Linked DNA regions of Homo sapiens. The protein of the gene in region 4 purifies or fractionates together with the protein of the main gene of each other region. This does not show direct contact. Each region holds a gene or a part of one and is shown on either strand. Other genes may lie near its edges.

What was found.
Region 1: the proteins of CLTB (region 4) and AP2A2 purify together in Homo sapiens (affinity purification with mass spectrometry; 2 studies listed by BioGRID and IntAct, with this or other methods). This does not show direct contact.
Region 2: the proteins of CLTB (region 4) and AAK1 purify together in Homo sapiens (affinity purification with mass spectrometry; one large-scale study listed by BioGRID and IntAct). This does not show direct contact.
Region 3: the proteins of CLTB (region 4) and CLTCL1 purify together in Homo sapiens (affinity purification with mass spectrometry; 3 studies listed by BioGRID and IntAct, with this or other methods). This does not show direct contact.
Region 5: the proteins of CLTB (region 4) and GAK purify together in Homo sapiens (affinity purification with mass spectrometry; 2 studies listed by BioGRID and IntAct, with this or other methods). This does not show direct contact.
Region 6: the proteins of CLTB (region 4) and CLINT1 purify together in Homo sapiens (affinity purification with mass spectrometry; 2 studies listed by BioGRID and IntAct, with this or other methods). This does not show direct contact.
Region 7: the proteins of CLTB (region 4) and RIMS1 purify together in Homo sapiens (co-immunoprecipitation; one large-scale study listed by IntAct). This does not show direct contact.

Annotation. Positions count from the first base shown.
Region 1 is NC_000011.10:1,005,870-1,009,304, reverse strand, and holds part of AP2A2 (AP-2 complex subunit alpha-2), read right to left. Parts: intron 2,778-3,435; coding exon 2,688-2,777; intron 1,294-2,687; coding exon 1,170-1,293; intron 206-1,169; coding exon 89-205; intron 1-88. UniProt on the Homo sapiens protein: Component of the adaptor protein complex 2 (AP-2). Adaptor protein complexes function in protein transport via transport vesicles in different membrane traffic pathways.
Region 2 is NC_000002.12:69,511,240-69,514,739, reverse strand, and holds part of AAK1 (AP2-associated protein kinase 1), read left to right. Parts: coding exon 1-269; intron 270-3,500.
Region 3 is NC_000022.11:19,218,720-19,222,219, forward strand, and holds part of CLTCL1 (clathrin heavy chain 2), read right to left. Parts: intron 3,375-3,500; coding exon 3,232-3,374; intron 2,893-3,231; coding exon 2,658-2,892; intron 1,289-2,657; coding exon 1,166-1,288; intron 1-1,165. UniProt on the Homo sapiens protein: Clathrin is the major protein of the polyhedral coat of coated pits and vesicles. Two different adapter protein complexes link the clathrin lattice either to the plasma membrane or to the trans-Golgi network.
Region 4 is NC_000005.10:176,396,040-176,399,539, forward strand, and holds part of CLTB (clathrin light chain B), read right to left. Parts: intron 2,009-3,500; coding exon 1,891-2,008; intron 1,680-1,890; coding exon 1,568-1,679; intron 494-1,567; coding exon 440-493; intron 1-439. UniProt on the Homo sapiens protein: Clathrin is the major protein of the polyhedral coat of coated pits and vesicles.
Region 5 is NC_000004.12:929,517-933,727, forward strand, and holds the start of GAK (cyclin-G-associated kinase), read right to left. Parts: upstream 2,801-4,211; 5' UTR 2,672-2,800; coding exon 2,527-2,671; intron 1-2,526. UniProt on the Homo sapiens protein: Associates with cyclin G and CDK5. Seems to act as an auxilin homolog that is involved in the uncoating of clathrin-coated vesicles by Hsc70 in non-neuronal cells. Expression oscillates slightly during the cell cycle, peaking at G1.
Region 6 is NC_000005.10:157,849,146-157,852,645, forward strand, and holds part of CLINT1 (clathrin interactor 1), read right to left. Parts: intron 1-3,500. UniProt on the Homo sapiens protein: Binds to membranes enriched in phosphatidylinositol 4,5-bisphosphate (PtdIns(4,5)P2). May have a role in transport via clathrin-coated vesicles from the trans-Golgi network to endosomes. Stimulates clathrin assembly.
Region 7 is NC_000006.12:72,246,550-72,250,049, reverse strand, and holds part of RIMS1 (regulating synaptic membrane exocytosis protein 1), read right to left. Parts: intron 2,036-3,500; coding exon 1,923-2,035; intron 1-1,922. UniProt on the Homo sapiens protein: Rab effector involved in exocytosis. May act as scaffold protein that regulates neurotransmitter release at the active zone.

The DNA.
Region 1 (3,435 bases), on a different chromosome or scaffold from region 4:
TGTTCTCAGCCAGGCCAGAGACCAAAACCCACCTTTTCAAATGAGCCCCGTCCCCACCCCTGACCCCTACAGGAAACAGGTTTCTCACTTGCTCAACTGCTTCCAACGTTGAAAGAAATCCTGAGAAGCCATTTCTGTCGGCTGGAAGAATTTGTTGAGAGTGATGGGCAGCTGCACAGACACGTTCTGGAAGGTGCCCCCATACCTGCCAGCAGCAGCAGCAGCAGAAAGAGACAGTCAGCTACTCCTCTGAGAGCCCCAGGGACCGGGAAAGAGCCTGGAGTGAGAAGCGTCCCGATCTACTGCCACCCACCAGAGCGGGTCGGGGGGCCGAGCCTTCAGTCCCCACGGATCGTGTGTGGCTCAGTGTCCAGTGTCACCCACAGACAGGAGGACAGGCCAGGGCCGCATACTCAGGCAGGACGTCCCTGTGCCTCACTTCTCCCCATTCATCTGTTTCCCAGAACTCCAAGTCTGTGCAAATAGTGTGATGTTTTTTCTTTAAAAAGGCAAAGGCATTTGCACAAAGAATGAAACAAAAACTTGCATGTCTATGTCCCCGAATTCTACAGTATACAATCTTAAGTTCTCTGTCTTTTTAATGTTAGAAAGTGTGCTTTTCTCAACATTCCTAACCTTGCAGACACCCAGCAGGGGACGGGCTGACTGTATCCACGCTATTTGTAGTCACTGAAAAGTGAGAGTAATGAACAGTCGCAACAGGAAAATCCTATGCTTTTAAAAAATAAGCAAAGTGGTACGATCTGAGCTCAACTGAGCAAAAAACGCGCCCCCCAGGCCAGGGGGCCGAAGGAAACCAGCTGCCTGCACCCCACAGCTGTCGTCTGGTACCAAGCCGGGCAGGTGGCGCGGGGGCCCTGGCTGTCTGCCACCCCATGAGGTGGGCCCCATGGTGCCCAGAAAGATCCTAGCAAGGCCCCATGTGGGAGCTGCCACCTGCCGTCCCGGAGCCCAGGGCTCCGCCTCCCCTTGTTTCCTGCGCTCTGCAGAGCCGGGGGCAGCAATAGCTCAGGCCGCATCCATGCACCGTGAGCACCCGCACGCCCCGGGTCCCCTCAGGAAGGACACGGAGGCACAGTCATGGAGCCCAGGCACACAGCTCAGGCGCCCACACACCCCTTGGCCCGGGGCGCACAGGCGGCTCTTACCTGAACTGAATGTTGAGGACTGGCGCCTCCGTGAAGTCGGACACGCACTCTATGTTGACCACCTGCTGCACCTGCGCGCCCCCCTCCACGGTCGGGTCCACGGGCTTGGTCTGCAGGTTCAGGTGTGCGTGCGTTAAGGAATCCAGCTGAGCAAGTCCCAGTGGCAGAAGCGGAAACGGGCCGGGCTAGAGCCCCAGCAGGACCCGTGGAGGCGAGCACACTCACCACACTCTAGGACCACCAGCTACGGGTCGAGGGCAGCCACACCACCCGGCCCTGCCCTTCCACCCAGACAATCCTCAAAACACTGTCTGCTTCTCACGCTTCCAGAATGGCTCCTCCATTTTAAAAAGTCACTTAGATTATATACTACTTGTCTGTTTTCACTCTGAGCCTCGGCTCTGGGTCTTACACACACAATTTTTGTCACCGTTAGCAGAAACTGGTGCTTAGTAGGGCAGGAAAACTTTAAGAATCCCAGGAATAGCAGGCTCCTGAAACAGCGAGACACAGAAAAGAGCCTGCCCTGCTGGGACCAGGGTTGTTTTCATGCTGGAAAACAAGGGTTTGCCTACAGCCTCTCCTGAAGAAACAGTGACAGCAGCAAAGCTGGGTCCAGGAGGCAGCGGGGTGCAGGCCTCTCCTTCCCTCTGGGTCGTGTGCCGCCGGCCACTCAGCTGCTGGGCTCGCTGCCGCCTCGAGCCAAGTGGACCCCGAGGGAGAGACCCCTAAAGAAGGGCGCAGTAGGAGTCAGAGCTTCCACTCCAGATTCCAAACAAAGTCTTTAATACAGGTGCTCCTGCATGTGTATTTTTAATGACTGTTTTGAAACAGCTTGAACAGTCTGCATTAAAACATGTTCATGTTAAAATGAACAGACCAGCCAGTGGCAAGGAGGATGTTGCTTCACTCAGGTCGCTGACCATAAATCCCCAGGTGTCACCATCTCTGGTCAAGCTGGGGTCTTCACGCTAACTCTATTTGGCGGGCCTATCCTTAGAGGTAGAGACGTTAGCGTCTCCCTGTTTTAGCTGGGGAAGTTCTAGGAACGCTTCTGGCATTACGAAGGGAAAATCTTCAGTCTAAAAGCTCTGCCAGAAGCACACACAAGCTCGGCTGGGGTGCGCACCGCGCTCCAGTCCCCACTGGCGCCTCCCACACTCTGCAAGCAGCAGCTCTGTGAGGCTTCGGAGAGGAGGGGTTTAAAGATCACGTCACAGGAGAGTAAGAGCAGGTGAAAAGGAAAGGGACTCACACTGGCCAGATGGAAGGGGAGGAGGCATGTACACGGTATTTTTAGGTGCATGATCAAAAGCTGGCTCTCCAATATGGAAGACTGCCTGTTTTCCTTCTCCTGCCCAGCACCATAGGCAGATTACGACTGCCTGATTTTCATATAGCATCTGGAATTATCTCGCTATTTTAACAAAATAAGAAAACCAAAAAACTTCCTCAAAAGCCTCCTCTAAGCCCCACATTATGCTGTCTGCGGGCATGGGGCAATGAAGCCAAGGATATTAGGCTGAAGGTCGTCTGAACAGATTAGTGTTGGGGTAAAGTTTAGGAACTGCGTGGAGGTCTTATTACCATAAAAGATAAACATCCGACCTAGAAGGAACAAAAACAATTTTTTCACACACACCATTTCACACTTACCCTGAATATTTACCCTGAAAAACAAGAGCCCCCCACAATCTTCAGCTGAATTTAAGTTCACTGTTGTGATGTATGACTGTTGTTAAAATTAAGAACAAATTTTTTCCAGTTTTAGAACGAGCACACCAGTGCTGGTAACACGGGCCGGGTATCTCCTCCAGTCAGAGGTAACTTCCGCCCTCCAGCACCCTCCTCCCTCGGCCCCTCCTGCGCACCCACACGGGATGGGTGAGATCACACGCATATGCACGGGGAAGGACCCACAGAACGCCCCGTCTGCAGGCTGGGCTACAGCTGGAGGGGCCTGCCAAGCATCTTTTCCAGGGACGCCACAATCACACAGGCCTCTGCCGGCCCCGCCCCATGACTGCAACATGCAAACACACGCACCGGCCCCGGCTGCCTCCTGTCAGGGGACCCGGCTGGGCACGCGTCCAGCACAGCATCGGTGTTGCACACTAGCCCTCACTGCAGCGGCTCAGCCACGGCACAGGTGCACATTTAGGATGTGTCGCTGTTTTTATTTATATCACAGTAAAAAATCTTTGTGAACATCTGTATACCCCTTGAATTCAGAAAGGAAATCTCAAATATTTTGAAAACAGTAAAC
Region 2 (3,500 bases), on a different chromosome or scaffold from region 4:
TACATCCAGCAACCCAGAAACCAGCAATTGCTCAGTTCCCTGTGGTGTCCCAAGGAGGCTCTCAACAGCAGCTAATGCAGAATTTCTACCAGCAGCAGCAGCAGCAGCAACAACAACAGCAACAGCAACAGCTGGCCACAGCCCTGCATCAACAACAGCTGATGACTCAGCAGGCTGCCTTGCAGCAAAAGCCCACTATGGCAGCAGGACAGCAGCCCCAGCCACAGCCAGCTGCAGCCCCACAGCCAGCCCCTGCCCAGGAGCCAGCGGTAAGAATCAACCAGAGCTCAGAGCACAAAAGCAGCAGAGGAATGTGCAGCGAGAGCTAGGGGAAGGGTGGGAAAGATGGCAGCAGCTGATGAGGGTCCAGGTTGCTTTCCCACCTGGGTGGTTCAATTATTTGATCTTTCCTTGATATATCCAAGAATAGTATGGATGTTCTATAGAAGATAGAGGTTTTTTTAAAAAAGGATTCTAGGCTACTGATGAAGAGCCTTCTTAATTTTTATCACTCTGAAACTAGGCTAGCAGGAAGATCTGTTCATCATCTCTGTCTGTGTCACTTTGAACAGTCAAGGACCTAGGCAGGATTAAAGCTAATCCCTTTCTCTTCTTCAAGGGGCAGTTTGATCCATTGTGCCCTTTCCAGGCCCTGGGTCCTCCATGTTGTGTTTATTCTTTGTCTTGGATGACATTACTAATCACATTATTTAAGTTTACCATGCAGCTCCCGTCAAGGGCCTGCTTACCTGAGACCATTCACCCTGGTGTAATCCCCCTGGGTACCAGAGCATCTGAGTATCCAGTCATTTGAGCCATCTTATCAATTTAGAAATTGGGCATGTCCACTTTTAGATATTGGCTGAGTATGGCATCAGAACCCCTCGTCTGATTGTCCTCTACAGTTTCAACACACACGGGCACATCATGCTTTGGCCTGTGATAAGTGGATTTTTTTCTGTACTCTTATTTTTCTGAGTGATAGTGATAGAAAATGTTATGGTGTTAGAAAAAGACATTTTGCATACCCAGCTGGTAGAGTGTCACAGCTACCCTGTTACTCCCAGGGAAGTCTAACTACTAGAGGAACAAAGGAAAAGTAAGAAGCCATCTTTCTGCTGGGCACAGTGGCCTCACGCCTGTAATCCCAGCACTTTGGGAGGCCGAGGCGGGCGGATCACAAGGTCAGGAGATCGAGACCATCCTGGCTAACGTGGTGAAACCACGTCTCTACTAAAAATACAAAAAAAAAATTAGCCGGGCGTGGTGGCAGGCACCTATAGTCCCAGCTACTCGGGAGGCTGAGGCAGGAGAATGGCGTGAACCCGGGAGGTGGAGCTTGCAGTGAGTGGAGATCATGCCACTGCACTCCAGCCTGGGCCACAGAGCAAGACTCCATCTCAAAAAAAAAAAAGAAACCATCTTTCTGAGGATTGATTTCTAATAGAGTTTTGTCTCCCATCTTAAACCAGAAAACCTACATCGCTTCGAAAGGAAGCAGTGCCGTAGATTGTCTTCTTTAAGTCTTAGCTAAGTGTGTGTTTAGTGTCTTTACACCTTCGTTTCTAAAACAACTCAGACTTCCTGCAGGCATGGAGTAGACAGTGAGTCTCTGTATTTTTAACAAGAGGTAAAGTTCCTCTTCTTCATGGAAAAAGAGTTTTTAAAAAAATTAGTACATGAGATAGCTAGAAGGGACCTTAATTATTCAGTTCAGCCTCCTCATTTTACAGAATTGGAAACTGAGGCATAGACTAGAAAGTGGTTGCCCAAGACATACGAACTGATGGTAGTGGAGCTGGGGCAAGAATCAAAGAATCCTGATCTGTGTTTAAGTTTAATTATAACAAATGCTCATCCAGGGTGATAAAATGATCAACTACTACTGACTACACTTCTTATGAGGTTCCCCTATGCTTCTCCTACACAAAAGTGTCTACTCCCTTGGGAATGAATTATGAACTTTCTCCGTGTTCTTTGGATGAAAAAACACTTTGAACACTTTGCTCTGGGATAGTTGGTTTTGGGGACAGAGAGGAAACAGAAATAGACCATGCTTTGGCCAGGAGCCATAGAGCTTCTCAGCTTTGACCCATCCTTGTCTCCGCTGACTCTTGGCAGGGCTAATCTAAAGAAGCAAGTGAATGAAGGTAAAGCGTACCCTGTAGCCATCTTAAAGCAATAATTAGCAAAGGGGAAATGGCCATTTGCCCTAGATGTTTATTGCAGTCTTATTAATAATAGCCCAGAGAATTTGGAAGCAACCTAAATTGCTGAGAAACCCAACTGTGCAGCCATTAAAAAGCACGGTTATAAAGTCTGTACAACAGTATGAAAAGAAATGCTCATGAGGTAATGTTAAAGGAATTGTGAAATTACGGAAAAACTATACACTTGAAAAGAGACTTAAAGTATAAGGTACCAAAAAGATAAGGATTGTATCTAGTTGTATTAGAGTGATGGAATAGAAGTCTGTTTTCTATATTCTTACATTTCTTGATGTGATTATACTCCTTTTATAATTACATTTTTAAAAAATCGTCAGCAAAATAGACATCTGAGTCTTTTTATTCCTTCTCCCGTGGTCTCTCTGTCCCTCCTCCCACTTTCCAATCCTGTTTGGATGGGATGGCATCATGGGGCAGAAAAGAGTCCTGAGCCACAGTCAGGAGACATGGGCTCTGCTTCCAGTTAACCCTGTGACCTTGAATGAGCATTTGGCCTCAGTGCAGGAGTTGAAATCTGCATTTTCTAAGGTCCCTTTAAACTCTCACATTCTTTGATTCTAAGTGGAAGTATAACTGTCTGCCAGGGTTGCTGGGAGGCGTAGCTGAACAGATACAAACCACTTAGTGTCTGTAGATTGCTGTTATAGGGCAAGGTGTCCTGAAGGAGGCATCTAATCTTCAGTGTGCTGCATCTGGAGAACAGAAGAGAAAAATGTTCTCCAAGTGGTAAGAAAACTATCCAACTCCTTTCCTTTATGCCATCAACCTCGAGACAAAACAACTTCGGATGTAAAATGCCCTGGAGATTTCACCATCCCTTCCCTCCAGTCCTTCATCTCAGAATAGAGTTGTCACTGGACTCTTCAAAATAAAGGGACCCAACAGTTTAGTATTCTTTTCAGATTAATGAATGTCTCATGAAATAAGCCCATTCAGTGTATCCTCAAAGCCCTCTGACCCCTATGTGTGGTAGTATTCAGCCAGCTGTTACAGGCACAACTCTGGACCCCCAGAGGAAGTTGTGGAGCTGGAGCTGTGGTTGTCTTCACAGAGCACTCTGCCTCTCCTTCAGCAGGGCAGCTTTGTTACCCTTCTAACCTCTGATTGATATTAGAACCTTATATTGTAACATTCAGCCTGTTGGTTAAGTGGATGGAATACTGACATGTGTACATAGTCTACCTTAATAAATTTTCCAAGTCCTGAGGACAAGATGAGGGCAGTCAATATCCCAAGCTAGAAGCATCCTGACCCAGGTAGCTGGATAGTCTA
Region 3 (3,500 bases), on a different chromosome or scaffold from region 4:
ACTATCTGCAAATGTCTGTGAGGCTATAACTGGAGAGGAGGCTCTTCCACAGGGCTGTGGGAAGCCCTCCCAGAGGCCGAGGCAGACTCCCACCTGCCAGGCCATACCCAATAATGACCCCTGGCCCCAGCACTCTGCCCAGTCTCCAAGGAGGTGCTGGATAGTCACAGGGGCATAAAGAGCACCTCAACAAAGGGAAGTCAGCTGAGACAACCTTGAAAGCTACTTCACCTCTGTCCACGAGGGCTGAGCTGGGCCCAGCATGCAGGCATGACACCAGGTACTCTCTTCCTGGGCTGCATATCCCTGCTTTGGATCCAAGGGCCAACTCTATGCCCTTGGCCAGTTAACAGTTCCAAGTCAGCTTACCCTGGGGAATCAAGCTATTTTTAGGCAAGCTATTTCTGCAGGGGAGAAGGTTCGTAAGGACTAAGATGTTTTATTTATTTATTTATTTATTTATTTATTTATTTATTTAATTTTTTTGAGACAGAGTCTCACCCAGTTGCCCAGGCTGGAGTGCAGTGGCGTGCAGTCTCGGCTTTCTGCAACCTCCACCTCCTGGGTTCAAGCGATTCTCCTGCTTCAGCCTCCTGAGTAGCTGGGATTACAAGCATGCGCCACACAGTGTGTTTTCGTATTTTTAGTAGAGATGGGGTTTCACTATGTTGGCCAGGCTGGACTTGAACTCCTGACCTCAAGTCATCCACCCGCCTCGGCCTCCCAAAGTGCTAGGATTACAGGCGTGAGCCACCATGCCTGGCCTATTTATTTATTTTTTTGAGATGGAGTCTCTGTCTGTCGCCCAGGCTGGAGTGCAGTGGCACGATGTCGGCTCACTGCAACCTCCACCCCCTGGGTTCAAGCAATTCTCCTGCCTCAGCCTCCCAAGTAGCTGGGATTACAGGCGTGTGCCACCATGTGCGGCTAATTTTTGTATTTTTAGTGGAGATGGGGTTTCACCACGTTGGCCAGGCTGGTCTTGAATTCCTGAGACCTCAAGTGATCCACCCACCTCCGCCTCCCAAATTGCTGGCATTACAGGCGTGAGCCACTGCCCTCAGCCAAGATGTTTTAAATTAAAAATGAAACCAGTCACTTGAGCCACAATGATGATCGGACGGCAAAATGCAGGTGTGCAGACATACCCATCTCTGTGCCTCACCTGGTCAATTAGCTGTCTCCTGGATGGGTTGGTCTCCTCAAGGACGTGAGCCCAGAGCTCCGGATCCTTTCTGCATACCAGGTAGCGGGCCTCGCTTTTGAACAGAGAATTCTCATTGCACACCTGAAATGAGCACACTCATGTGTGTGACACAGCAGCCAACCAGCGGAAGCTGCTTGGGAGGACACACCCCAATTCGTTCCCTGTGTGCCTGATACTGGTTTGGTGGACAGTCAGGGCCCAGGCAAGACGCTATGCTTTGACATGGGATGAGCAGCATCCTACAGGGTTAACGATGGACTCAAACTACCTCAAAATGCCCTTTCCAAGTTTACAACAACTCCCAGGGATGTGCCACATATCTGGCCAGTAGGACTTCCTGCATTCAGGGACATGCTCTGTCTCCCATTCTGTCTGATACAGCCACTAGCCATGGGAGGCTACTGAGCCCTTGAAATGTGGTGCGTGACAGGAACTAAACTGGTAATTTTTAATTTAGTTAAATTTAAGTACTCATATGTAGCTAGCTTTAAACCATCTGTAAAATGTTATCAGAACAGCCTAGAACTGGTATAAAACAGCACAAACACTGCAATGTTTCAAGATCTAAAAACTGTAAACTGTGCTTTCACTGGTAGATCTGGAGACCTTTTTCTGAATGTTATAACAGATCTCCAAAACACCAACAGTCCACTGGAATGTTCTAGCGTGTGCAGCACTTGCTAAATCCTGGTGAGGATCAGATCTGTTGAGTGCCAGATGCCCGGCACAAGGCTGAGCGGCGTGCACACGTGCTTGCGGATGCAGCGCAGTCCGCCTGTGTATCACAGGAAAAGCCCAAGCAGGCTGGTGTGGCACCAACCTCACAGGTGCCCTATTCATGTCTGGATTTTTAGATCAAATGATTAGGTAGGAACAGTTCATACAATTCAACCTAAACATGTAATTATATGTGGATCCAAGCCTGGGCAGATGCAGGCAAAAGACCTGGGCAGATGTCTCAAGGAGAGGCCAGCAAGAGCTCATTGGTCAGGTGATGGGGAAGGGCTTGTGTAGAGGGTTACCCCAAAAAGGGGGCATGAAGTACAAGGGTACTCGGGACATGAGGCACCCAGGGAATTGCAGGCCTCTCCAGGTGGGGTGGCAAGATGGATGGCTGATCAAGTTCGGGAGTTGGGAAAGGTGGCAGTCCACAGAGGAGCTCACGAGTCAGGCCAAGGAGTTCAATTCTGCCCTCAAATTGCCAGGCAATAGTAAGGACTGTAAGCAGAGGGATGATAAGTCAGGTTCAGGACCAACTGGTCTACAGGTACAATGCATACAAATTGCATGAGCAAGTTCCCAAAAGCTGTGAGAATCACAAGGAAATAATCTCATGACCTGCCATCTCCAGGTGCACAGAAAGCCCTGATCAGCTCCCCACAGGCACACCTTTGAAAGCTTCCCTGGGAGCCCAGGGTTACATGGGCAGCTCAGCACATCTGCTACCCACCTTGATGAGCTCAAGGTCACACTGCCCCCGCTCATAGGCAACACAGGCCAGATGGGGGTCTCGCTTCTCACAGTAGCGGCCCACCACGCTGCTGTCATAGTAGGCATTCTCTCTCAGGAAGCACTCGGGGCTGTTGTTGCTGTCGATGTAGATTTTAGCCAGTGCATTGTGAGTGGCAGGCTCCTCACAGCCTTCCTGAATCTGGGACTCCAGCCAGGGAAGCAGCAGCTTGAGCCTTTGAAAGAAGGAAGGTGCTGTAAAGTCTCAAGGCTACCACTGGAAGTCTTGAGGGCAACTCCAGGGCTCTGACAGATGTTTCCTGAAACAAAAAATCTCAGAGTCCATTGACTTCAGGTTGCTCTAGGGACCAAGATGGACCTGGTTTCCAAACTGATTTCTACTGTTAGGTTTTCCCCCAAGGTCTTCACAGTACCAATAGCAAGTAACTCATTGCTACATCTAAGATGTGTACATGAACGACCAGCTATAGAGACAGTCCTGGAGAATTAGACAGAAACAACAACAGACACTAGAATCCAGGGGTAAGAGAAAACACCAAGTAAGGACACCTTACCTATTTCTTTTTTCTACTTCAGCCACCAACTCATCAGTAGAGAACTGTCCTCTCACTGCCATGATTAAGTGTTTAATCACTTCCTCAGAACAATCCACATCAAGCAGCCCTCCAATCACAGCTGGGGTCCGGCTAGGGTTGACCTAGGGTAGTCAAGGTCAAGTAACTTCAGTGTTGCAAACACAAGTTATTGTTAGAAGCCTCCTACGACGTGGACAGTTTGGGCAAAACCCTGAAAGGGCTCCTGTTTAGCACTGCGCTGTGTCCCA
Region 4 (3,500 bases):
CAGGAGAATCGCTTGAACCCAGGAGGTGGAGGTCGCAGTGAGCCGAGATCGCAGCACTGCACTCCATCCTGAGCAGCAAGAGCGAAACTCCATCTCAAAAAACAAAAAACCCTTCACCCCACACACCCACCAAGAGACATCACAGAGGGAGGGAGTTGGGGTGCTCTGCCATTTGCCCCTCCCACATGGGAATAAGTGGCAAGCACATTCCTTTCTCTGCCTTTATCCTGCAAGGCTCTGATTTAGCCAAGCAGCCTCCACTTCACTGGAGGGAGGGAGGTGGTTGCTGCCTGCACCCACCAGGGCATTTGCCTCCTGTTCTGACCATTGCTCCGAGCCCAGCCACACTCATTTATATCCCACAAGCAGGAAACTCAAGAAACTGTGGTGGCCATTCCCTCTCTAGCTCCCCCAACAGAGAAGCAAAACAGACACGTACACGTAGCCGATGATATCAGCATCTGGCTGCTGGTAGAATGCTTTGTCAGCGATCCTTGAGGGAAAGGTTGAGGGAAGGGGTTAGGTGGGGGAAGGCAGATGGCAAGACAGACAGGCAGGCAGAAGGTTAGAGAGAGAGAGAGAGACAGCATTAGTACCTCCAGTGGGAGAAATGTTAGGAAGCATAGTTCTGGAAGGCTCAGCAACGACCCACAGCCCCAAACAGGAGAATGGGGACCTTCACCCTGGCCCCAGCACCTTCTCTAAAATTCATCCCTGATCATGTTACTCCTGTTCAAACACCTTCAGTGGCTCCCCACTGCCCATGTCACTGCCCAACTCATCAGCCAAGGCCCTTACAGTGTGAGTCCACAGGTTCCTGCCTTCTCTCCCACCGCTCCCTGGCCCCCTGTTGCCTAATACATCACATTTTTTTCTTCGTACCCAGGTCTAGAATGCCCCCCTACCTCCTGCCCTTTTTTCCCTTTTTTCCTCCTAGTCATCTTCCAAAGCCCAAGTCCCAAGACACAGAGGTCTCTCCCTGACCTGTTTCCTTGCTTCCATGGCCTTCGTGCAGAGGGCCCTACTGTATTTGAGCTTAGTTGAACATGTGTGTTTTTCTCCTCTGCGCCCTTTGAGGACATAAGGCTGGGTCCTCCTTATCTCCATCTCCTCCGTGCCTACCCCAGAGCCTGGCATGCAGCAGTTCCCTAGACAGAAGGGTAGCTTCCCAGAACAGGCCTTTCCCTTCCTGGAAGACCTTGTACCGTGAAGGACAGAGCCTCAAAGGCAGGGAGCACTGGGCAGTGTTCAGTCATGTCCCCACAGCCCCTCTCATGTCCCCATAGCCCCTCTCATGTCCCCACAGCCCCTCTCATGTCCCCACAGCTCCCTCTCATGTCCCCACAGCTCCCTCTCATGTCCCCACAGCCCCTCTCATGTCCCCACAGCTCCCTCATGTCCCCACAGCCCGTCTCATGTCCCCACGGCCCCCTCATGTCCCCACAGCTCCCTCATGTCCCCACCCCTTCATGTCCCCATGGCCCCCTCATGTCCCCACGGCCCCCTCATGTCCCCACAGCCCCCCTCATGTCCCCATGGCCCCCTCATGTCCCTACAGCCCTCTCACCGGTTGTTGATCTTGTTCTTCTCTACTTGTTCACTCTGGCGCTGGTTCCACTCCTCCAGGTCCTTCTTGGCCTTCTCCCGCCATTCCTGTTCCGTGACCTTAGATGCAGCATCTAGGACCCCACAAGAGAATGAGTGGCTGCTTTCCAGCTGGGATGCACAGGCCCGGCCGCGCTCCTCCCCTGGCCCCTGCCAGGCAGCCACAGGGCCGCACCGGCCCAGTCCCACATTAAGGCATGCAGCATCCCATGCACTCCGAGGACTCCCCACACTCCACCCCACACACAGCCCACCCAGCCAACCCCGCCTCAGCCCCGCCCTCACCCAGCTCTTGCAGCCGTTTCCTCTGCTCCTCTCGCCACTTGCGGATGCTCTCAGGCTCCTGGGTCAGCCTGTCAGCCTGGGCAATGGCTGCGTAGCCATCAGCAGGACCGTTGGCCTCCTAGAACACAAACACGCAGCAGTCTATCCAGCCAGCACACCTGCCCCGCTGTCTCTGCTGCCCCTGCTGGGGACCCACTCATGTCTGGATAACTCAGCCTCAAACAACCTCATACCCACTGTCTCTGGTGACTACACCTATCTTTGCACTTGCTGTTCCCTCTGCCAGCAACACTCCGCCACCTGTGTGACTGCGGGCAAGTTACTCACCCTCTCTGTGCCTGATCATTGCCTCTGGCCCAGTTATAGGTTTTGATACCCCCAAAGCAGAAGACTCAAGAAAGCGTGTGCCAGCCACTTTCTTTGTCATAAAATGGGCTAAATAACAGTATGCACTCTGATGGGAGGACATAAGGATGAAATGAGTTAAAAATTATAAAGAATGTCGGGCGCAGTGGCTCACACCTGTAATCCCAACACTTTGGGAGGCCGAGGCGGCAAATCACCTGAGGTTGGGAGTTCAAGACCAGCCTGACCAACATGGAGAAATCCCGACTCTACTAAAAATACAAAAAATTAGCCAGGCGTGGTGGTGCATGCCTGTAATCCCAGCTACTCCGGAGGCTGAGGCAGGAGAATCACTTGAACCCGGGAGGCAGAGGTTGCAGTGAGCCGAGATCACACCATTGCACTCCAGCCTGGGCAACAAGAGCAAAACCCCGTCTCAAAAAATAAACAAATAAAAATAAAAAATAAAAATACTGCTTGGCACAGTGAGTCCCTTGTGTTACCGTCATTAAAATCACTCTCTATTGTGGTTGTATTAACTCCTAACACTTAGTCCAAAAAGACCTCAAGACCTCACTTTTTTTTTGAGATGGAGTGTCCCTCTGTTTCCCAGGCTGGAGTGCAATGGTGCAATGTTGGTTCACTGCAACCTCTGCCTCCCAGGTTCAAGCGATTTTCCTACCTCAGCCTCCTGAGTAGCTGGGATTACAGGCACACGTCACGACACCCGGCTAATTTTTTGTAGTTTTAGTAGAGACGGGGTTTCTCCATGTTGGTCAGGCTGATCTCGAACTCCCGACCTCAGGTGATCCACCGGCCTCGGCCTCCCCAAGTGCTGGGATTACAGGCTTGAGCCACCGTGACCAGCCCAAAAGGACCTTACTTTATAATGTGTTTGTCTGTCTCTGCCATCAGAATGTCATCTCTGTCCTTTTCACTGCTATGTCCCCAGAGCCCAGCACAGTGCCTGGCCCAGCAGATGCTCAGTAGATGTTTGTTGAGTAGAGAAGCATCCCTGAGATATGCAGCATGATCATAGCTCAGATCACACCATGGGAAAGAACTTGGACTCTGCAGCCAGGCTGTCTCGGTTCAGATGCCACCTCTGATACTATGAAATGTTTGTAAGGCCTGGGAGAAATTGCTTAACCTTGCCTGACTTTTGTTTTCTCATTTGAAAAATGGGGCTGGGCATGGTAGCTCATGCCTATAATCCCAGCACTTCGGGAGGCCAAGGCAGGAGGATCACTTGAGGCCAGGAGTTT
Region 5 (4,211 bases), on a different chromosome or scaffold from region 4:
CATCTCTGACATGGTTGGTGCTCCTGATAATCTGCCTTTTAAAAAAGTGAAGACTAGCTAGGTGCAGCAGCACATGCCTGTAAGCCCAGCTACTCGGGAGGCCGAGGCAGGAAGATCCAGAGCCCAGTTCAAATCCATCCTGAGTAACAGCAAGACCTCGTCTCTTAAATTAAAAAAAAAAAAAGGAAGATGACAGAACAAATTTGAAGAAATTAGAAAGCTATCTGGTTCCACAGTTCTACCTAAAAACCCATTCACACCACAAGTCCAAATTCCTAAAAGCTATGAAAACCATTTTTTCCTAACTCACTTGACAGCAAATCCTGGTCTATCATAATAACCTCATTTGGGATAAAACCTGACATGAACTGATATGGGGTTAATTACAGACTTTAATTATCCCACAGTGAGAATATTTATTCATTTAATTACAGAAATATTAATGTATTCAATTACAGAATACTTTCCCAAGTCTTCTGGGAGTATCCCACGATATACAGGTTATATGCTGCAATGACCATTCTGAAACCTGAAAAATTCTGGAAGTGTAAACATCTGTACTCAAGGGTTCAGATTACCAGCCATCACCATGTTTACACAAGACAGCCTAAACTCCCATAGCCTATGTTCTAAGGTTGCTGTTCAGACAAAACTTAATTAAGTATGTTTATATAAAATACTTAATTCAGCTTTCACACTCTGTTTCAGTTCAAAGAGGCTTCAAAGTACTTAGGAGGCTGCAGGCCACCTATTAAGTTTACAAGGAGGAAATCTACAGCTCCTAATTGCATTGGTTATTTTTATCTCCTGACTTGCCTAGATAGCAAAGGGAAACAAGTTCTTTTGCACAACCTCAGCAGCTGCCCACATTTCCTTGTTCTTCTTCCTGGGTGCTAAGTGACCCACAAGCTTCTTTCTTTATACGAATCTTCCTCTCCGGGCCCCAGTGAGGGTGCATTCTCCATCCCTCCCACCAAGATCCGTGCCATCTTCTGCTTGGCCCCTTCCCAAAGCTCACACTGTCTGTACCACCCCTAAGGATCTGTCCCTGTGCTGCCTCTGTCTCTCCACCCCTTGAGCACAAGTCTGAAGTTCCAGAAAGCAAGTCCTGTCCACAATAAACTTCTTAAAGAATGAAGATAACCACCTAGTATTTTCAGAATAAATGATTTGATCTGAGAGAAATCTTCCAACTGATGTGAAAGAATATCACACTTCAGCCCCCACTTCTGAAAGAAGAGCTTAGACTTTCTGACCAAATCATACCCAAAATCTGTTTGGTTTTGACCACAATGGAGACAAAGTGTGTGATAATGCTACAGTCAAAATGTCTCCGCAGGCCTTTTGTGATAATCAGAATTCTGGGATAGTCTCCTGTCTGGTCACAGAGCAGGCACCTGGACAGGCTAACCCTCCAGCCCTGAGAGGTACCAGGGAGCTGGTGAGGGTGAGGGCTTTTGTGTCGCTTCACTCCCTCTCCCTGTGCCAATACAGCAGAATAGAGTTACGCTTCCGCACCCAAGTCAACTGTGTTTAGCCCATAAACTTCACAGCCAGTGAAATATGACACACCTCCAGGCACCACTGGACAAAAAATGTAAGGAAAATCCACAAGAGAGAATGGGACCCACTGGCACTGGTGATCGATTCCGTGTGAACGGAGAGGACATCCAGGGAGCTAGAAATAGCATGCAGAGACAAAACTGACTCAAGACTGACTCAAGAGGACTTAAGCCGAGTGACCTGTCCACTCTGCAAGTTCTATATAGGTCACAACCACTGGCTCTGCTTCCTGTACTACACACGGAATCACACGAGTAGATGTTCACCGGGAAGAGAAACACTGAGGTGTTGAAAGACGAAGGGGGATCACGAGACACAGCCCAGTCTACCCTCGGCCAACCCCCCCACCCCCCAGGCTACAACCGCAACTACCTGCAACACGTGTGCACCCACCAACTCTCAAGTTCCCTGGACTGTAGAAGAACCAGCCCTAACCTCCAAAGTCCAGTCCTGTCCCTGCCTGCTCAATAACCCCAGATGTCCGGCAAAAGGCCAAGGCTTAAACCCACCTCCTGCACCGCTCACCTCCTGACTCCAGCTGTCGGCCTTCTAGGCACCGTCCCTCAGTCTCCGCTGTGGGTCCCCACCCAAGCTCCCTGCCTGCCACCATCCCCCACCTCACCGTAACATCTTCCCCCACCCACCCTGAGGGGGTTCCCCAAGCCCCAGGCCTTGCTCCGACTTGACCCTACTCTTATGACAAGAAAGTACCCCGACCCGGTCCCAGCCTCGCCCTCCGCAATCACCGCCAGCAGGCACTCACCTACGCCCGCGCTATGACCTTCGCCTGGCCCTGACCCACGCCCTCGGCAGAGACCCTCCCCTGGCCGACCCTGACCCACGATCCCGCTGGGACCCTCCCCAGCCCTAACCCACGCCCTTCCACTCCGGGCTGACGCTGCCCCCAGCGTCCCGGAGACAACACTCCGCGGCCGCACCCGCGCTGCCGACCCGGGGCCTCACCTTCGGCCAGGACCCGCCGCACCCGCAGCCGCAGCTCGCCCAGTTCCACCGTCTGCCCCACGAAGTCACTCTGGTCGCGGCCGGAAGCACCGCCCAGGGAGCCTGGACCCGCCAAGAAGTCGAGCGCCGACTGCAGCAGCGACATGGCGGTGGCTGCGCCGCACCCCGCGGCAGCCGGAGTGGTCGGGCTCGGGCTCCCGCTCCCTCGCCGTCCGGGTCAGCTCAGCAACCGCCGGCCCGGAGGTGCACCATCTTCCGCCTCGACGCCGTGACGTAGGCGCCCGTGAGGACGCGTCGCGTCAGGCGGCGACCCGGCCTAGCCCCGTCCCCTCCGCCGCGGCCTCACTTCCTGGCTGCGCGCGCAGGCGCGGAGGTCTGACGGAGACAGCGCGTGCGCGGCGTCGCCGGGCTTGCGATGAACTTCCGGCTGTCAAGCTCCCGGCCGGGCTGACTCAAGCGGAGGCGCGCGGAACAGTCGCCGAGGCGATTCCCGCCCAGGTAGTTCAGCGCCCCAGTCCAGCTCCCGGTACCGTTCCCCACATGGTCTGTTTTGTGGGAGGCTCCTTCTCAGGTGTCTCCGGTTTAAGCGCTTCGCCATCCTCTGGGTGGAGTCAGCCTCCCGTTTGCTGTTAGCGCCGCGTTTGCGAATGGGTTCGCGAATTTTTCTCTCAGTTGGCTAAGGAGCAAGGAGTTAGCGTGCGTTAAGCTTTCAGTAAATACTTGGTTTTCGTCTCATGGAGGTCGGAGTTTCCTGTGACGCTTAGTGAGTAAGGTTGGCAGCCCCCTCCCAGCAGCCAGGCAGGCAGTTTGCAGGGGAAACGCTGCTGCATTGCTCTGTCTTCCGAGGAGAGGGCCAGGGTCTGGCCTGGGGCAGTGACCAGTAGTGGGAGCCGTGGGCTAGAAAAACCTTCGTCCTGGGCAACCACAACACTGCAGAGACTGCCCTGTGACCCTCAAGGTTCGTTCTCACCCTGACATTTTCCAAGGCAAAAGCAAATCCTCATGAACCACTTGGAAGGGTTCGTAATGCCCAACTATTTGGAGATGAAATGGTGACTTTCCTTATAGGATAATAAGGAAATGGCTCACAGACAATGCATTTTTAGTTTTTGGCCCACACAGTATTTGGGGGTTGGGAGTGGGTAGCAGGAGGTGAATTAGTTGCTATCATTTAAAGACTGATGCCAGGCGCGGTGGCTTACACCTGTAATCCCAGTGCTTTGGGAGGCCGAGGCAGGCGGATCACCTGAGGTCAGGAGTTCCAGACCAGCCTGGTCAACATGGTGAAACCCCGTCTCTACTAAAAATACAAAAATTAGCCGAGCGTGGTGGCGGGTGCCTGTAATCCCAGCTACTCGGGAGGCTGAGGCAGGAGAATCGCTTGAACCCGGGAGGCGGGCGCCACTGTACCCTAGCCTGAGACTCCGCCTCAAAAAATAAATAATAATAATAATAATAATTGAAAGGCCTAAATGTTAAAAACCTAGTTTTCCAGCTTCTGTGGAAAAATCAAACCTGTCAATATTGGACCCAAAATGATGTGTGTTACCAATTACCTAGAGTGGTCCCTTGAGGTAAGACACAGTCATTTGCCTGACCAGATGGGCTCATGTATGTTACCTGCCTGGTTCCTATAGTCATTTAAGGTTGCAACCCCTTCAACAGAGTTATTTGTTCTCCAACTC
Region 6 (3,500 bases), about 19 Mb from region 4:
CAGCATTGCATGCTACAGAGAAATCATCTGTGAAAGGAAGAATCTATGATGCAGAAAACTTCATTGTTATTTTAAGAAATTGCCACAGCCACCCCAAACTTCAGCAATCCCACAACCCTGATAAGTCAGCAGCCATCAACATGGAGGCAAGATTTTCCACCAGCAGAATGATAAATACCTGCTGAAAGCTCAGATGGCTGTACTTTTTAGCAATAAGATATTTTTAAATTAAGGTATGTACTTTTTTAAACATAATACCATTGTGCATTTAATAGACTACCACATAGTGGAAACATAACTTTTATATGAACTGGGAAACTAAAAATTTGTATGACTTGCTTTATTCCAATATTCACTTTATTGCAGTGGTTTGGAACTAAACCTGTAATATCTCTGAGGTATGCCTGTATAACAATTTTTTTGTTTACATGATGTCTTGTAAAAGATTAGCATAAACTGCTAAATACATATTCTGAAAGTATATCATCTAGATTTAAATCTAGACTATCTTCTAGATGTGCTATCTGTGGCACACTCTTGGCATTCTGTGCCCAATTTCCTCATAAGAAAATTGAACATAACAATGTTGTCACCTTTGTTCTTGGCACATGGCAAATGCTCAATAACTATTAGCTTTTATTATTAGAAATATCTGGATTTAAAGGATATCCTCTGTAATAAATATCAACTTACCAAATTTAATGTATTCATTCAAAAATATTTGAGCGCCTACTATGTGTCATAATTGTTCTAAGAGTTAGTAATACAGCAGTAAACAAAACAAAGTTCCTGCCCTCAAGGAACTTGCATATCAGAGGCAGGAGATGAATACATGTAACAGAGGAAGGCAAGCACAGAAAAAAATAGTGACGAGTGTGAGTGCATACTATGTAATACAGGAGGTCCACTGAACAGAACAGAGAAAGTGAGGGACAGTGGTGGGAGAAGAGATCACAGGCGGGGCAACAAAGAGCCAGATCTGTACAGGCAATTAAGCAATGAGATGAGAAGCCACTGGAGAATTCTGAACCCATTTGACTTAGTATTTTTAAAGAATCCCTCTCGCTGCTGAGTGGACAGCAGATGACAGGGCTAAACATTTTACATGCTTAGTGAGAAACAGGCCATCCTTCAAAGCCCCATTCAGTACCGAACTTATAAGCCAAATACATCAAACTAAGGATATTACTGGCTGGGCACAGTGGCTCACGCCTATAATCCTAGCACTTTGGGAGGCTTGAGGCGGGCGGATTGCCTGAGCTCAAGAGTTTGAGCCCAGCCTGGGGAGCATGATGAAACCCTATCTCTACAAAAAATTAGCCGGGCATGGTGGTAAGCACCTGTAGTCCCTCTTACTTGGGGGACTAAGGTGGGAGGATGGATTGAGCCCAGGAGGTCAAGGCTGCAGTGAGTCAAGATCGTGCATGCCACTGCGCTCCAGCCTGGGTACAAGTGAGACCCTGTCTCAAAAAAAAAAAAAAAAAAAAAAAAAAATTATTTAACCATGGGGGTTTAACTACAAATTAAGACATGTAGTTTCAACCGTATAACCTAAGTCACTTTAAAAAGTGATAAATGAAAAATTAGTATGAGAAAAATTAATAGAAAAAGGCTCAGTATGCCTATTAGCATTGTTCTTTTTTTTAATATTAAAAAAAATTTTTTTAGAGACAAAGTTTCACTCTGTTGCCCAGGCTAGAGTGCAGTGGCACAATCACAGCTCACTGCAGCTTTCAACTCCTGGGTTCAAGTGATCCTCCCATTTCAGCCTCCCATGTAGCTGGGACTATAGGCATGCATCACCATGTCCGGCTAATTTTTTAATTTTTTTGTAGAGACAAGGTCTGTGTTGCCCAGGCTAGTCTTGGACTACTGGGCTCAAGAGATCTTCCCTTCTCGGCCTCCCAAAGTGTTGGGATTACAGTTGTGAGCCACGGCACCTGGCCTTGCACTGTTCTTTAATGATTTACTAAAAATGCATGAAAACAAATGGCAAACAAACAAACAAACAAAAAACCCGAAAATTGAATTTTCAATGCATGCCTTTTTTCTACTATAAAAATATAAGCTATTTGAATGAGAATTCTTGAATGAAACATTTCATTCAATAGTTGTTGAAAAAGCACGCATGTACGTTTACCACATAATGATGAGTGTGTGCAAAATTATAAAAGATTATTTATATTAAAGTTATCTAGAACTTAAATACTGTCCTAAGAATTGAGAAGCTAAATAAAATTCATGTCAAAACAAATATTCTAGGCCAGGCACAGTGGCTCACACCTGCAATTCCAGCATTTTGGGAGGCCACGGTGGGTAGATTGCTTGAGCTCAGGAGTTCGAGACCAGCCTGGGAAATGCGGCAAAACTCCATTTCTACCAAAATACAAAAATTAGCTGGGTGTTGTGACATGTGTCTGTCGTCCCAGCTACTTGGGAGGATCGCTTAAGCTACTTGGGAGGATCGCTTAAACCTAGGAGGCTGAAGCAGAGATGGCACCATTACACTCCAGCCTGAGTGACAGAGCAAGACCCCGTCTCAAAAAAAAAAAAAAAAAAGAAATGAAATATTCTAAAATTGGCTAACTAGACTCTTCTTAAATGAAGTACAAACCATTCATGTGCACTGTTGCACATTAACAAAATCACTCACATTTAATAATTCGTTAGCTAAATCTATCCACAAGTAATAAGTAGCTATAAATTGGCTCAAACATAGGAATATATTACGTTCCTTTACCTGTATTTAATTTTCAGGCAAAAGAGCCCTGGTAAGCCAAATAATTTCTTGCCAATTTGAGGGGTTGAATAACCAGAAAGCCCTTTCTCCAATGTGCTTTCCTTGTATATACTGTTTGTCCATTGTCAAACACCATGAATTTGGTATCACATATTTTAGAGGATTCTTTTTCTTGATATTGTTCAGTCTCTTAAGAATAAATTGTCTGCTTCAATTTGCATTTATGAAATAAATCTTTTTATGTTTTAGTAATGTTTTACATTAGCAGTTACTTTAAAATCTTGAGAATACACAAAACAAGCTGAACAAAATATTAAGAATTGGCAGATGGAATTCGCGATATGTCTTTCCAAAGACTTTATTCCTCAACATGTCTTTTGAAAGGGTATTTCTGCAATATGCTTTGCAATATTAAAGTAGAAGCCATTTATGATTTAGCAAAAATAATACAAGGCATAAACAACAGAGGTATTTAAATTAGCTGTCCTATATGTAGGCTAAACTGAGTCTTAAGAGAGAGTACTCACTGAAAATAATGATTTCATGGATGAAGATATAGTTCCTACATACTTACAAATAACCTAGTCTGACAATGATATCTCTATTTTCACAAACACTGTATTCCTTTGATTTTTCTAGTGTTATACTGTTTTGTGTGTAACAGTAATAACAGTAATAGATGTTTCAAGAGTTTACTGTATGTCAAGTACTATACTGTTTCACATTTAATCCTCATAATCCTATAAAATATCATCTCTAT
Region 7 (3,500 bases), on a different chromosome or scaffold from region 4:
AAAACTAAGGGAAGAGGGAGACATAAAATCATTATTATTGTTCTTAAATGTTAAAAATAAGAGTTTGAAGATTATATGTGTCTAAATTATTATAGCGTGACTAAATGCTTTCTCTGGTGTCACAGGTAGTTAAAATTAAAAAAAACAAGAGTTTGGATATTAGGAATAAGAAATACAAAGAATTAGAAGAGATCATAAAACATATTTACTGTGGGCCTATTTTATACAGGCACCGTTTAGTATTTCCTGGTATTTTTTCTCACTTATTTTTTTATTTTTTAGAGACATGGTCTCACTCTGTCACAGGCTGGAATGCAGTGGCATGATCATAGCTCACTGCAGCCTCAAACTGCTGGAACCAACAATTCTCCCAGTTCAGCCTCCCAGGTAGATGGAACCACAGGTGTACATCATCATGTCTGGCCAGTTTTTTAAATTTTTTGTGGAATCGGGGGTCTTGCTATGTTGCCAGGCTAGTCTTGAACTCTTCAGTCTCTCAAAGTGCTGGGATTAAAGGTGTGAGCCACTGCACCAAGCCGTCATTTAATTTTTAGAATTAAACTATTACAGGTTATTTTTCATGAGAGAAGGAGGAAAAAACTAAGGATACAATACACAAATGACATCTTCAAACTACAAGAAGGCCAAATGATATTTCTATTAACCAAGATTTCATGACAGTAGACCAAAGAATAATGGGGAAGTAACGTACTAAAATCCTATTGTCAAACTCACAAGAATTGGAATTTTATCAGTCATTATTACAGTATCTGCCCTGGCAGTGGTGATGACACTTTAACAATGTTAACTTTAATTTTTTTCCTTTAATTTAGAAGTTACTTTTCATTTTATGTTTAAGTAAGCATATGCTGTTAATAGGTATATGTTAGAACATATTTGAGAGTCATTAAAACAAAATAAACTAATTTAACATAGGATTAGCTTTTCATGGTAAGGAACAGATTAAGAATTCAAACCTGGATCTGTGTAAATCCATTTCTCTGATTCCCAATTGATACCTAAGATGGGGTTTCACAGAACCAGAATGGGTTTCCATCCTCTTTCAAAATATGTGGAGAATATGAGAGATTTACACATACACTGAAGAAAAAGATGGCCGGCAGATAAACCCAAAGGGTATTACAAAGATATTCAATATACTAAAAATAAAAGTTAAAACCATAAAAGCCCTTGAGCAATAAGCTTACATATATCTTCTCTGTCTCATTAAAATCAAGAGAAAACCACAAAGGCAAACCACAGAAATCCACACATTATCAGAGGAGCAAAAGGTCATTATTTGTGTAACAATTTGAAACAAATAGTTTGAAGTCCTTAAATTATAATATCAACATCACATTTTCCATCATAATCTACAAATATATGGTTCTTCATTATCCTTAACCCTAGTTTCTTCACTCCAGGTTTCCCCAGATCACATAATAAGGCAATAGTGAGAAAATGGTAGCTTTTTCAGAGAGCTTTCAGTGGCAACGAAGAGTTTTGCCAAATGCCTTAGGAAGTTAAAAAGAATATTCCAAATTTAGGCTCTTCAGGCTCTAGGCTCATAAGGTTATTACATAAATGGGGTATGAACTCCTAATATTATGTGTAAACAATTATTTACCTTAGAAACTTTTACATAGCACACAAAAAATATGAACTCTTTATTTACTTATGTTACCATTCATCAATTAATGTTCAGAGTATCTGGCACACTGCAAGCACTCAGTAAGTATTTCTGAATAAATATGTGAATAAAGGAATAATAAAAAATGCATGAAAAACTAATGAAGTAGATTATGGTGTTAAATGACTATGTATTTATTGCAGGCTTCAAGGAAAGGCGAACATATTTAAAGACAGACTCAGACAGTGTATGCAAATACTAACAGCCTCCAACATGTACAAAAAATACATACAGAAAGTTGCCCTGGTAAGACTTGTGGGGCATCTTTTAGAGCTCCAGGACTTGTTGGAGAAATAACAGAAATGGAAGGCCTTTCCATCTTCTGAGATTCAAAGGAACTTGAACCTAAAATGAGAAAAAAAAGTAAGTAATATTTGTAAGTGTAGGAAATATTTTTAATAAAATGTTAAATGCATCCTTTATTTGTATAAAACCATAATTACTATCACTGATAACAGAACCTACTTTTAATGGGATAGATTGTCTTTAGTTGTCTATTTAAAAAATATTAAGAATGATATAACGAAGTATTATGCTTATTTCAACTGGAAAGAATTGATCTACATTTCTGGAGTGCATGGTATTGCACAGGCTCTTGCATGACTTCACATATGGGTAAAGGTCTGCTTCAGAGATAAGGAAGATAGTGCCTGTTAACACTAATTATCTTGGCTAATGGATCATCTATTATAAACTGTCCTTACTGAGAAATTAAAATGAATGCATACATAATATAATTTATAAGCCACATCTAAGCCAAGACTTTGCCACTGTTTTAAAATCAGATATACCATCTATCTTAGGTTTTTTTTTTTTTTTTTTTTGAGACAGAGTTTCGCTCTTGTTGCCCAGGCTGGAGTGCAATGGCATGATCTTGGCTCACCGCAACCTCCACCTCGCAGGTTCAAGCAATTCTTCTGCCTCAGCCTCCTGAGTAGCTGGGATTACAGGCATGCACCAACACGTCCGGCTAATTTTGTATTTTTAGTAGAGACGGGGTTTCTCCATGTTGAGGCTGGTCTCGAACTCCTGACCTCAGGTGATCCGCCCACCTCGGCCTCCCCATCTATCTTAGTTTTGATCTTATAAATGAGTATCCTGAACCTCTGAAAATGCTGCTTCAAGTAATTCACCACTAGTGATTTGTTTCAACTTCACATGGAGGAGGCTGGGTCTCCTCTCAGCCACTTGGTGGAGTTCTTCACTGTTCCAAGTATACCCTGACACAGAGAGCAATACAGAGTGTTTATAGAAGGCTATTGATCCAGCAAGTACAACCTTGAACTCACCACCATTCAAACTTAGCCAATGCTTCATTGAGAAATACTGTTTATGAAGCATTGCCTGAGTATGTGCAATCCGCACATTTTTTTCTATAAGTACAAATTAATTCTCATGTCATCCTTTTGTGCCCTCCGAAAACATTTAGTGATAAAAAACAGCTATATAAAATTGTTACTATGTGTCTTTTCCCAGGTATATTTAAAATACATTTTCCTTAAGTCTCAGAACAGGAACACTGTTATTTCTAATAATGCTTGTTTGTAATATTATGGCAATCAGTGTATTTTTTAATCATATCAATAATATAAATTATGCAATTAGTCCCACTTCCCTCTTTGTATTGGTCACCAGAAAGCTCAAAGCCAAAACTGGGTCCACCTCTAGCAGAACATGATGGTATGCATTTTATATGATAACCTAGTGTCTGTTTCCTTGTTTATCCTACTTTCATATTTTCTTCTCCCTTCTAATCACTATCACTGGTTTTCCCCTAAATCACCTTTTATTTTCTATTTCTTTAACTTGG